2 separate regions of the Homo sapiens genome follow, and region 2 is linked to region 1. The links come from fine-mapping of genetic effects on gene expression. Tissue or cell type: cerebellum. Region 1 holds a variant in brackets; the other region holds the start of a gene. All regions are shown on one strand. Distances are from middle to middle.

What was found. PIP is the estimated chance that this variant, and not a neighbour inherited with it, causes the effect.
Region 2: it holds the start of HBS1L, and the variant in region 1 is fine-mapped to the expression of HBS1L in cerebellum (GTEx, PIP above 0.99).

The regions. Positions count from the first base shown.
Region 1 is chr6:134,982,396-134,987,627 of GRCh38, reverse strand. It overlaps HBS1L (HBS1 like translational GTPase), which reads left to right. Exons shown (of 18, transcript NM_006620.4): 10 at 818-892; 11 at 1,445-1,562; 12 at 2,219-2,287; 13 at 5,066-5,170. Among named protein-coding and RNA genes, the nearest start is that of MIR3662, 5.6 kb to the right of the region's middle. The variant C/T (reference allele first, on the strand shown) is at 3,113.
Region 2 is chr6:135,052,674-135,057,905 of GRCh38, reverse strand. HBS1L (HBS1 like translational GTPase) reads left to right here and starts at 3,084. Exons shown (of 18, transcript NM_006620.4): 1 at 3,084-3,257. The coding sequence starts at 3,215. It overlaps LOC124901405 (a long non-coding RNA gene), which reads right to left and starts at 3,013. Exons shown (of 2, transcript XR_007059775.1): 1 at 2,420-3,013. LOC124901406 (a long non-coding RNA gene) reads left to right here. Exons shown (of 2, transcript XR_007059776.1): 2 at 1-188. RefSeq lists an enhancer at 2,876-2,925.

The sequences.
Region 1 (5,232 bases):
GGAGATTTGTTTAAGATGCTAATTAAGATGTTATTCTGCTTGTATAGATGACTTAGATGTGACTAGTGTACATTTTATTAGTCGGTTGCCATGTTTTTAAAAATAAATTCTCTGTTCTCATCTTAAATAAATGAGGTGTTAGTAATTTTTAAGTAAGAAAATGTCTTCTTATTTTCAAAATTAATTTTTAAAACCTAAAAATTGTTTTAAATTATAAAATAATACATGTTTATTATAGTGGAATGAAAGCATAAAAATCAGAAATAAACCTATATTACCAATTCTCCTTCCCACCCAGAAACTTATAACATTTCATTTTGTATATTCATCCAATTTATTTTTATAGATAAGAATCTTTTTATTTACAAAATTGGGTTATCTGTTTTATCATCTGCTTTTTAAAAAATAATTTTCTTGTCTTATGCATGTTTCCAAGTAATTGATAATCCTTAGATAAAGAGGGTATTGTTTTTATGGCTGTATTCTAGTCTATTTTAAAGATGTAATTTATTAAACATTTACTTTTGAACATTTCCTGCATATGTATTTAGAAAATGGTTCATTCCATGGAAATTTCTGGGCGTAAGGGAATGTACGTTTTAAGACTTGCTGAACCTGATTAAAATGCCTTTGAGCATTTTGAGGAAGAATTACTTTTAGATCATATTATTAGCAAGGTCTGATATTCCATGTTTTGATTTTAATAGATTTTATATTTATATTTTATATAGTCTTGATTATATTTCATTGCAGAAATTTAAATTTTATGTATCATGTTCTGAAGGATAGTTTTAAAAATAAATTGGATCTTTATCAGGTTAATTGGCAACAAGAAAGGTTTCAAGAGATTACTGGAAAACTTGGGCACTTTCTTAAGCAAGCAGGTTTTAAGGTAAGATCATTTTAGATTTATTTGTTATTACTTTCCTTAAGTCATCTTACTGGTATGAGAGGAAAAACTAATACTTTGATATTCTTATTAAATTTATTTAATTCTCTTTGCTTTATTTTCTCTTGAGTATCATATATATAATATATTCTTTGGATTATTTCAACTTAGAAAATTGCATATGTTTAATATTTGGGTTGGTTTTTATGTAAGCAAAATACTTTTTTACCCTACCTATTAAATTAGATGGTATAGGTTTAGGGAGGTCATAGAGGAGTGTGGAAACTGATAGGGAAGAATTTGTCCAGCAAGCATCTGTAGTATGCCTTTGTTACCAAATGCTTGAATGTTTTGGAATAAATTTGCAAGTTTCCCAATCAAAAAAGTTGAAAATTATTGGATCAGATAACTTTGGGGCTGTAGTTCTGTGATTTCTATTATGTTTTAAAAAGTACATTGTTGCTTTTGCAAACTTGGTGCAGTTATGGTAATGGTGAATCTTTTAATGTTTTAAAAAATGTTGTATTAAGTTTCATAAGTCAATCTTTTTAATAGGAGAGTGATGTAGGTTTTATTCCTACAAGTGGTCTCAGTGGTGAAAATCTAATCACAAGATCTCAGTCAAGTGAACTCACAAAATGGTATAAAGGACTATGTTTATTAGAACAAATTGGTAAGTATACTGCCATTCTAGCTTTAATGCATTATAAACTTGGTATTAATTATTATTTAGAGTTCTTTATGGGAGAGAGTCACACGTATGAAAAAGCATAGGATTTGTAGTCGGAGGAACTAAGTTACCTGTTTTGTCATCATGTGCAATACTTAACCTGTCTAGTGCTCAGTTTTCCTCAGTTTATGAGGCTAGTGCCTGGTTTACATATCTTATAGACTGTTGTTAAAATTAAATGAGATTAACATTCATTTTATAAGCTGCAACTATTACTTGGTTGAATGTCCCTTATCCGAAATGCTTGGGACCCAAAGTGTTTGGGGTCTGAAATTTTTTTTTTGGATTTTGGAATATTTACATTATACTTATTAGTTGAACAGCCCAAATTCAGAAATCTGAAATCCAAAATGCTCCAATGAGCATTTCCTTTGAGCATTATATCAGTGCTCAAAAAGTTTCAGATTTTGGAGCATTTCAGATTTCAGAATTTTGGATTTGGGATGCTCAATGTGTATATTAGTGACAGTTAAGTTGCTATTAGTAATTATAAAAAGTAGTTATTTTCTAGGAGAAGTGGGATTATAATGAGTTTATTGAAGTGAGTCAAAAATTTAATTTTAAATTAAACCTTGCCTTTTGCAATTTCTTTTTTCCAGATTCCTTTAAGCCTCCCCAGCGATCTATTGACAAACCTTTTAGATTATGTGTGTCCGATGTTTTCAAAGGTAAGTGCTACCTTTGTAGTGCTTCTTCAGTATAGCCCCTTTTCCCCATTCCCTCCTAACCTCCTTTCCTGGACTAAGTTATGACAGTATATTGCCTTCAGAGTCTCTCCTCTCCATGCCCAAGTAAGGATCACTGTCAGATTAATCTTAAAATGCACAGATTTAGTCACTTAGCTTCCCTGTCCAGGAAAACCTTCAGTTTACTCACCATTTCTCATCTTTCAAGCATAAGAAAACCTTGCCTTTTGTCTTTCTAACTTTATAGTTTTTTTTTCTCCCATTAGATTCCTTTAGTTTTCAAATCCTTCAACCAAACTGGATTGTTTATTGTTTCTTAACCACACAGGATGTGTTTATTGCCACATGTCTACCCGTGCTTCCCTGTTGTATTGTTCTTTCTCTTTACTTGTCCATTTCCTCCCCATCTGTAACAGTCTGGGTCCAGTTAGGAGTTAGATACCATACATAGGTGAAATGGGAAATGTAATATAAAGAATTATTAACTATGATAAAAATGCAACTAAAAGATATACAGAAACTTTATAGATAGGGCTGAGGAAGGACCAACGTAGAAGAGGTTCAGAGCTTGCTGGAAGAGATGATATATTAAATACCTAAGAATATATCTAACTTAATAAGGGCAAGATCCTATATAGAAGACTATAAAGTGGAAATACAATTTAAAAACTCAATAAATAAAAGGATATAAGATTTATTATTACAATAATAAAAACTGTAAGGATGTCATTTGTCCTCTAAATCTCCATTGTCACAGAGCCAGCAATGCAGAGTGAATGTGGAACTGAGCAGCAGTAAATTGGTAAC[C/T]GGCGTGCTTACCTGCGCACATGCCCTGACGCGTCCCTCTGTATTCTCTGTATCCTCTGTCATTGTGCTTTCATGCAGCATTATAATTTTTTCTATGCTGTCTGTTTATCCCACTTAGATTATGAACTCCTTGAAGGCAAGTACTATCTCTTCTTTATCTATATCTGCGGCCCTAGCCCAGTGCCTGGCACATAATACATTTAACACATGAATAAAAAAATGAATGAATGAAGGTGCTTTGAAAAAATCATGCAATGAAATCAAAATTTATCATTATCATTATTAGCTTCCAGTGTTCTAGTAATAGAGGAAATATGCTAATAGTTTCCAAGATGCCCATTGTTTATCAAGAATACAAGAGGTGGTTACTTTTCTTTGATTAACAGTGTTTGCTGACTGTACTTTCTCACCTTCTGTTCCCCCTTCAGGCTGCTTCCTGGCTTCCGCCTACGCTGCTCTCCTGAGTGTGTTCCTCCTGAGGTCATGAAATGACCTCTTGGTTGCCAAAGTCAATATACACTTTCAATTCTATCTTACTTGAATTTGGCATTGGTTCTGATGCTGGTAGCCACATCCACCTTGAAACTCCTCCCTTGGTTTCTGTGACCTGCTTTCTCCTGTTAACCTGTCTATTTCTCTGACCTGTCTATCTCTGACCTCTCTATATCTTCTCTATGGGCTCCTCATTCTCTGTCTTTTAAACAGTGTTCTGCTGCCTCAGTCCTCTTCTTAGTCTTCAAGTTCCTTTTGAACTGACATCCATGAGTGTCTCTACCTTCTGCATCTTGATGCTTCCCAAATCTGTATCTCCAACCCAAACCTTTTCACTCATTCTCCACACACTTGTCTAAGCACTACTGGACATCTCTCCTGGGAGAGTGTTCTTTTAGGGGTACCATTCTCATGGAATGTGGTGTGATTGGTCCCCCCGGAATGCAACTTCTGCATGTGTGTGTCTCATAGACACTTCAGATTTACCAAGCCTAAAATGGATCTTGTCCTTAGTTTCATATCTCACAGTTAATGCATCATCATCTCACATTTTCCCCTTTCTGTCATTAGTCTTCACTTTCCTTACCACTCCAAACTTGTTATTCCTTATTCCCGAATTCTTGAGTTTATTCCCTTTCTGTAGTAAGTTTGTGCATTTGTATCAGCCTCTACTCTAAGACAGAAATACCATCACCTTACTTCTCCGGTCACAATATTTACTGGCTTCCTATTACTTAACTGCAGGATGAAATTTAAACCCTAAGCGTGATTTATGAGACCCCTTTATTATTTCTCCCTTGCCTATCTCTGTTGCCTCCTGTCTTACCTTTTCTTCATTATTCTATATGGTCCCCTCCCCATGGCCCCCACAAGTGACACATGACTCTTAGCCCATCCCACATTTGGTTATGCCTTTGCCCACACAGTTTCCTGGGGCAGCAGTGTCTTCCTTTTTCTCCCTACTCATGCATACAAGCTACCTAATAAACACTTATTCCTTCTTCAGAGTGCCAGATGTCTATTCTCACCATCATGGATTCTTTGGTGCACCTTTGTGTTTCTATTGTATATTTTACATATTATTTGTCTCAGGACAATGTAATTGTTTCCATCTTTCTCTTCACTAGTATAATATCTTTATGGGCAGGGACTTACATTTTTATTTTTTTTTATCCCCAGAGTTTAGTATAATATCTGGTACTACGTATTTATTATTTCTCAATAAATATTTGAGAAAGGAATGAACCTTTCTTTGGTAATATGAGTATTTTTATTTGCAAAAAAAAAAAGTAAAGTGTGGTATGCCATATTTAGTAGAGATGTTAATTCTGAAATGATTATTATTTAATGTCCATTGAACTACTAGTTTTATATGACTACTTGAGAACTAAGTATAGTTAACGGTATTAATCATCAGATAACATTGCTGTATGAACCATAAGATTTTGGTATGTTTTGCAGATCAAGGATCTGGATTTTGCATAACTGGTAAAATAGAAGCTGGTTATATCCAAACTGGTGACCGACTACTGGCAATGCCTCCTAATGAAACTTGTACCGTGAAAGGTATTTATCTGCAAGATGCTTTTGCTAAACAAGCCTTAAGTTGAGACAGCAGATTTTTAAAA
Region 2 (5,232 bases), 70 kb before region 1:
TTCTGGAATTTTTATTCTGGATATAAAGGTACTTCAGGAAAATTTTGAAAGTCTGGATATGTTCATTATCTTGATGGGGTTGATGGCTTCACTGGTGTATACATACGTCAAAATGTATCAAAATTACACATTATGTGCAGTTTATTGTCAATGATATCTCAATAAAGTTGTTAACATTTTTTCAGTAATGTAGTTATCCTTTCATTCATAATTTTTTTCACAAATCAATATAAAATGATTTGTATTGTTTTTTATGACATTAACAATTCCATAGCAAGAGAAATGTCATTTTATTTCTCTTCTTTTACTCATTAATTCATTCAGCAAACATTTAAAGTGCCAGACATTAGGGTGCCGGAGAAACAAAGATAAAGCTTTGAAATTAGTAGGGGTAGAGAAGTGGCATTTACTGAGTACCCATTCTGCAACACCTACTGTTTTTACATATATCATTTACTTTTCACAAAACAGAAGACATACATTTTCATATATTCGATTTTACAGATGAAGACATTAAATCTGAAGTGGTTAACAGCAACAAAACTGGGACTGAAATCCAGGTTCGTGGTACTCCGAAGTCATAGTACTTTCCATCAAAACACAATACCAGAGTTTTATTCATTTATTTTTTGAGTCGGAGTTTTGCCCTTGTTGTCCAGGCTGGAGTGCAGTGGCACGATCTCAGCTCACTGCAACTCCTGCCTCCTGGGTTCAAGCGATTCTCCTGCCTCAGCCTCCCGAGTAGCTGGGATTACAGTCACCCACCACCACGCACAGCTAATTTTTTTTTATTTTTAGTGGAAGATGGGGGTTTCACCATGGTGGCCAGGCTGGTCTGGAACTCTTGACCTCAGGTGATCCACCCGCCTCAGCGTCCCAAAGTGCTGGGATTACAGGCGTGAGCCACGGTGCCCTGCCCACACCTTACAGAGTCCTGAGGGGAGTGGAACAATCCTAACTTTTTCTGAAGAAGTCAGTGAAGGCTTTGCCATTGAGGCTCTACTGTTTGAGATGCAGTAGATGCTGTGCAATATTTAGAGTTTTAAAGGAGTGCGTTATTGACGACCTAAGGGCAAATTATATATTATCTGACAGAAGTAACGTTTTCTTATTCATTGTTCCTGTAGTACTTTGCTTATGTGGTCTATAACTCATTCACTTCATACCTCAGTGAGTTGTAGTTAAGCTTGTAATTGACAATTACAGTGGAGTGGAAGCTGCCATTTGTATTTTAATAACACAATTTTTTTGGGGGGGTGCAGAGTCTCACTCTGTCTCCAGGCTGGAGTGCAGTGGCACAATCTTAGCTCACTGCAACCTCTGCCTCCCGGGTTCAAGCGATTCTCCTGCCTCAGCCTCCCGAGTAGCTAGGACTATAGGCACGCGCCACCATGCCTAGCTAATTTTTGTATTTTTAGTAGACAGGGAGTTTCACCATGTTGGCCAGAATGGTCTTGATCTCTTGACCTCATGATCCGCCTGCTTCAGCCTCCCAAAGTGTTGGGATCACAGGAGTCAGCCACCGCGCCCGGCCAATAACACAATATTTTTAAGCACCTACTATGATCTGTGATAAATCCTCTTATACGGATACATTATTCACAGCTCGCGAGTTAGTGTCTCTATCTCCTTTTTACAAAGAAACAGGCTGCAAAATAAAAATTACCTAAGGGTGTAAAATAATAAAAACACTTAAGCCATGTAACATTAGCAACTATCTCTATTTTTCTGTAAACTTTTATTTTGGAGCCACATTAAACAACTATTTTTGTAGTCAAACACATTCAAATGCATGAATAAATTACGTTCCAAGCCACTTACAAATATAAACTAAATTTGGATTACTCTTATTTCTTTCTATTGTGCATAGCAAAAAGCTGAGGAAGCTTTTAATTATCTCTAGAACTCAACATTTGCCTTTGATGTGAAGTATCATCATTTCAAAAACACAAGCTAAAACTGAAGTGGTGTTCAGTATAATGAGGTTGGTTTCTTATATAGCATTATTAACTTTATGTTCTGAGAAATGAGGACATTTAATAGCAGGTTATAGATTCATGCATCAACAACATTCAGCATTACCACCTAAGGCCAGTGCTATGTCTAAAAAGCTATATTTAATACTCGCAATGTTACACACAATTATGTCTTCAATGAATGTTCAGTGAATCCTTCTTTATGATGCTGATAAATATCGTCTATATAGCTAAAATCGTTTACATAGCTAAGGGCAAATCGCTGTTTACTAGGGATAGTAATGCCGAACGGAGTGAATACATGAAGTCGTAAATTATATGAATGCAGGGTGACCTAATATAGCCAGGGTCTCAATTTAATAATATATACCCGTTTAAAAATAGCCTTATTTCCTTCTCTAAAGCTTGGACTCTTTTTTTTTTTGAGATAAGGTCTCACTCACTTTGTCGCCCGGGCTGGAATGGAGAGGCCCGATCTCAGCTCACTGCAGCCTCGACCGCCTGGGCTCAGGGGATCCTCCCACCTCAGCCTCTTCAGTAGCTGGGACTACAGGTCTGCACCACAGGGCCGGCTAGTGTTTGTATTTTTTGTAGAGACGGAGCCTCGCTATGTTGCTCAGGCTGGTCTCGAACACCTGAGTTCAAGCGATCCGCCCTCCTAGGCTTCCCAAAGTGCTGGGATTACAGGAAGGAGCCACCGCACCGGCCTGGGCTAAATCTGATTCCAAGTTTACACAAGTTTGTTGAATGCCCACTGTGTGCTTAATGAAAGATCAAAGTTTGATAAAACAAGGTCCCTGCTCTTACTGAGCGCATAGCTTTCTCAGATTATCAGGAACCAAATTTGGAAAATAATCCAGAACGCTGGCGTAGGTAGCTCAAGGTTCCCCGCTTGCAACATTTAGTCCAAACCAGTCAATTCTAGGCGGCGGATTTCCCCATCCCCCTCCGTCGCCCAACCTTTGGGTGGGGCCACTCCCAAACGCTCCCTCCCCTCGTCCCGCCATGCACAGCAGTGCGCATGCGCCCTCAGGGAGGCGGACAGTGACCCTGAGGCATTGCCGTCGCGCGGTGCACAGCTAAGACGTCGCGCTTGCGCAGGCGCTCGGCGCAGAGGCCTGCGGGAAGCCAAGATGGCGCATAGGGGTTCTCCAGGCTGCAGTTGGCGCCTTATCAGTATCTAAGCGGAGTGTTTTGGAAGGAGTTAAGGGGCTGTGGCAAACGCCCTCTCCGCCGTCATGGCCCGGCATCGGAATGTTCGAGGCTATAACTACGATGAAGGTAGGTGGCAGGGTCATGCCGGGACGTTCTTTTCCCGGCTACAGCTGGGATCCTAGCCCGTTGGCATCCACTTCAATCTGTGAGTTTCTCGTCAGTGTTGCCCTGTCGGGATTGGGAGAGCCCCAGTTGGGGAATATAACAGGCCTTCTAGTGCTTTCAAATGCCGTCGTTTTTAAGTCATGATTTCTGCCCTCTGGGGTTGATTTTATTTGGGGAGGGGGAGGTGCTGCATAGCGTCATATGGGTAGGATATTGGTGAGGTTGAGATCCGGTGATATTTAGGCACGTAAGCATTATCACCTCTTCCATTGTTTCCTCCCATGTTGGGCACTAACGTGCCTGCTTCTAGCTCCTCTCTCCCAGATCCCCTTTGAGAAATGTCCATGAAACGTTGCTTATTTGTAAAACACAGATTGACTTAATACATTCAACGGACGTGTACCTGTGTTAGATTTACATGGTAAACCTTTTGTGTATGTCCATACATACCTAGTGCAGAATCAGTTTGCGCTAATTTATTTTTCAACGAATTTCAAAGTGGAAACTTAGGAGACGGTAGAAAAGACACATGTTAAAAAGGCCCAAAGAATGAGTCGATCAGATGGATCTTGAAGTTTATACTTAGTTCTTGGCTGGTAATGCTTGATATAAATGTATTTTGAAATGTAAATAAACGGCAGTACTAGAGGAAAGAGTGTATAGGAAAGGACTTTTTGATATTAAAAAATGAAATAAAAATGTCTGTATGAATGTTCTGTAGGAGTTAACAGGAGTTAGAATTATTTTTAGGAGGAGCACATCCCTCTTCATGCAGTAGATAACTATAGGCATCACCAAGCATCACATAAACTAAAAATATAAACAAAAATGAACTAATGCAGGAGAAGAATAAAGAACTATGCTTTACGAAGTGCAGAACATGTAGTGCTTAATATGTTGGTGATTGTCATTGGCACCCCAGTAGATTATTATAGAACATCAGTATGCTTTAACTAGAGTGAGGGCAGCTAACACCCTGTTCTCCATTTGGAACCTGTGACCTCAGTCCGTCTAGAACATGTGAATTTTCTGGTGGTTACTTTAGAATGGAGGCCCTTTTAAATAAATATTGCAGTGGATGGTATTGCATGTGGACCATTGTCACCTAAGAAATGACTTTAGATTGAGAGAGATTTTTGCAAATATAAAGTACATGAATAGGCCTATTTATTATTCATTCATTTCTTTAATAGTTGTTTATCATTTCCTCAACCACCATTAAGTTAGTGCTTAGAGTACTGTTCTAAGCTTTGAGGACTGAAAGTAAGATATTTGAGGGTGGTCTAAAAGGAGAAGATTATACGAGTTACAGATTATTAGAGTATGAAAAATGCTACAAAAGGTACTGAGAAAACGCTATGGGAGGGATACACAGATGAGAACACTTAATTCAGAATGGATTGGGGGGAATTTAAGCAGGATTTCTACGTTAAGGAATGCTTCATGGAGGAGAGGTGGTTGGCCTCAGGGAGCACCTTGGCTTCTTGAGGTTAGGTTGTCATGTTGTCATGCTTCTTTGAAACAATTGGTGACATCATAACCAAGCTGTTCCTGTAACATTAAGGAGGTTCATCCCCTTTTCTTGTTTATAAAAGTTGTACTCATTAAGGTCCAGTTTATTTCTCTTCTTCCCAGTTAGGCTTTCTCTTGAATTCTCAGAATAATAATTTAAAAATTCTGTTAAGAAATATAACCTCATTAGAGAGAGTTTGTGTTCTAAAACCTACTGGTTCCGCTACTTAACTCCCACTTTGTTTTTCTCTGTAATTTATGTAATACTTTACATGACTGCCTCAGTCACTGATTTAAAAGTCTCAGGAAGGCAAAATCCATACTTTAAGTAGCTGGCACAATGTTCTTTACATGTGGTAAATATTTCATAATTTTGTTGATTGAGGAAACAAACTATGAAGATTGCAGGAAAGAATTCTCTTCA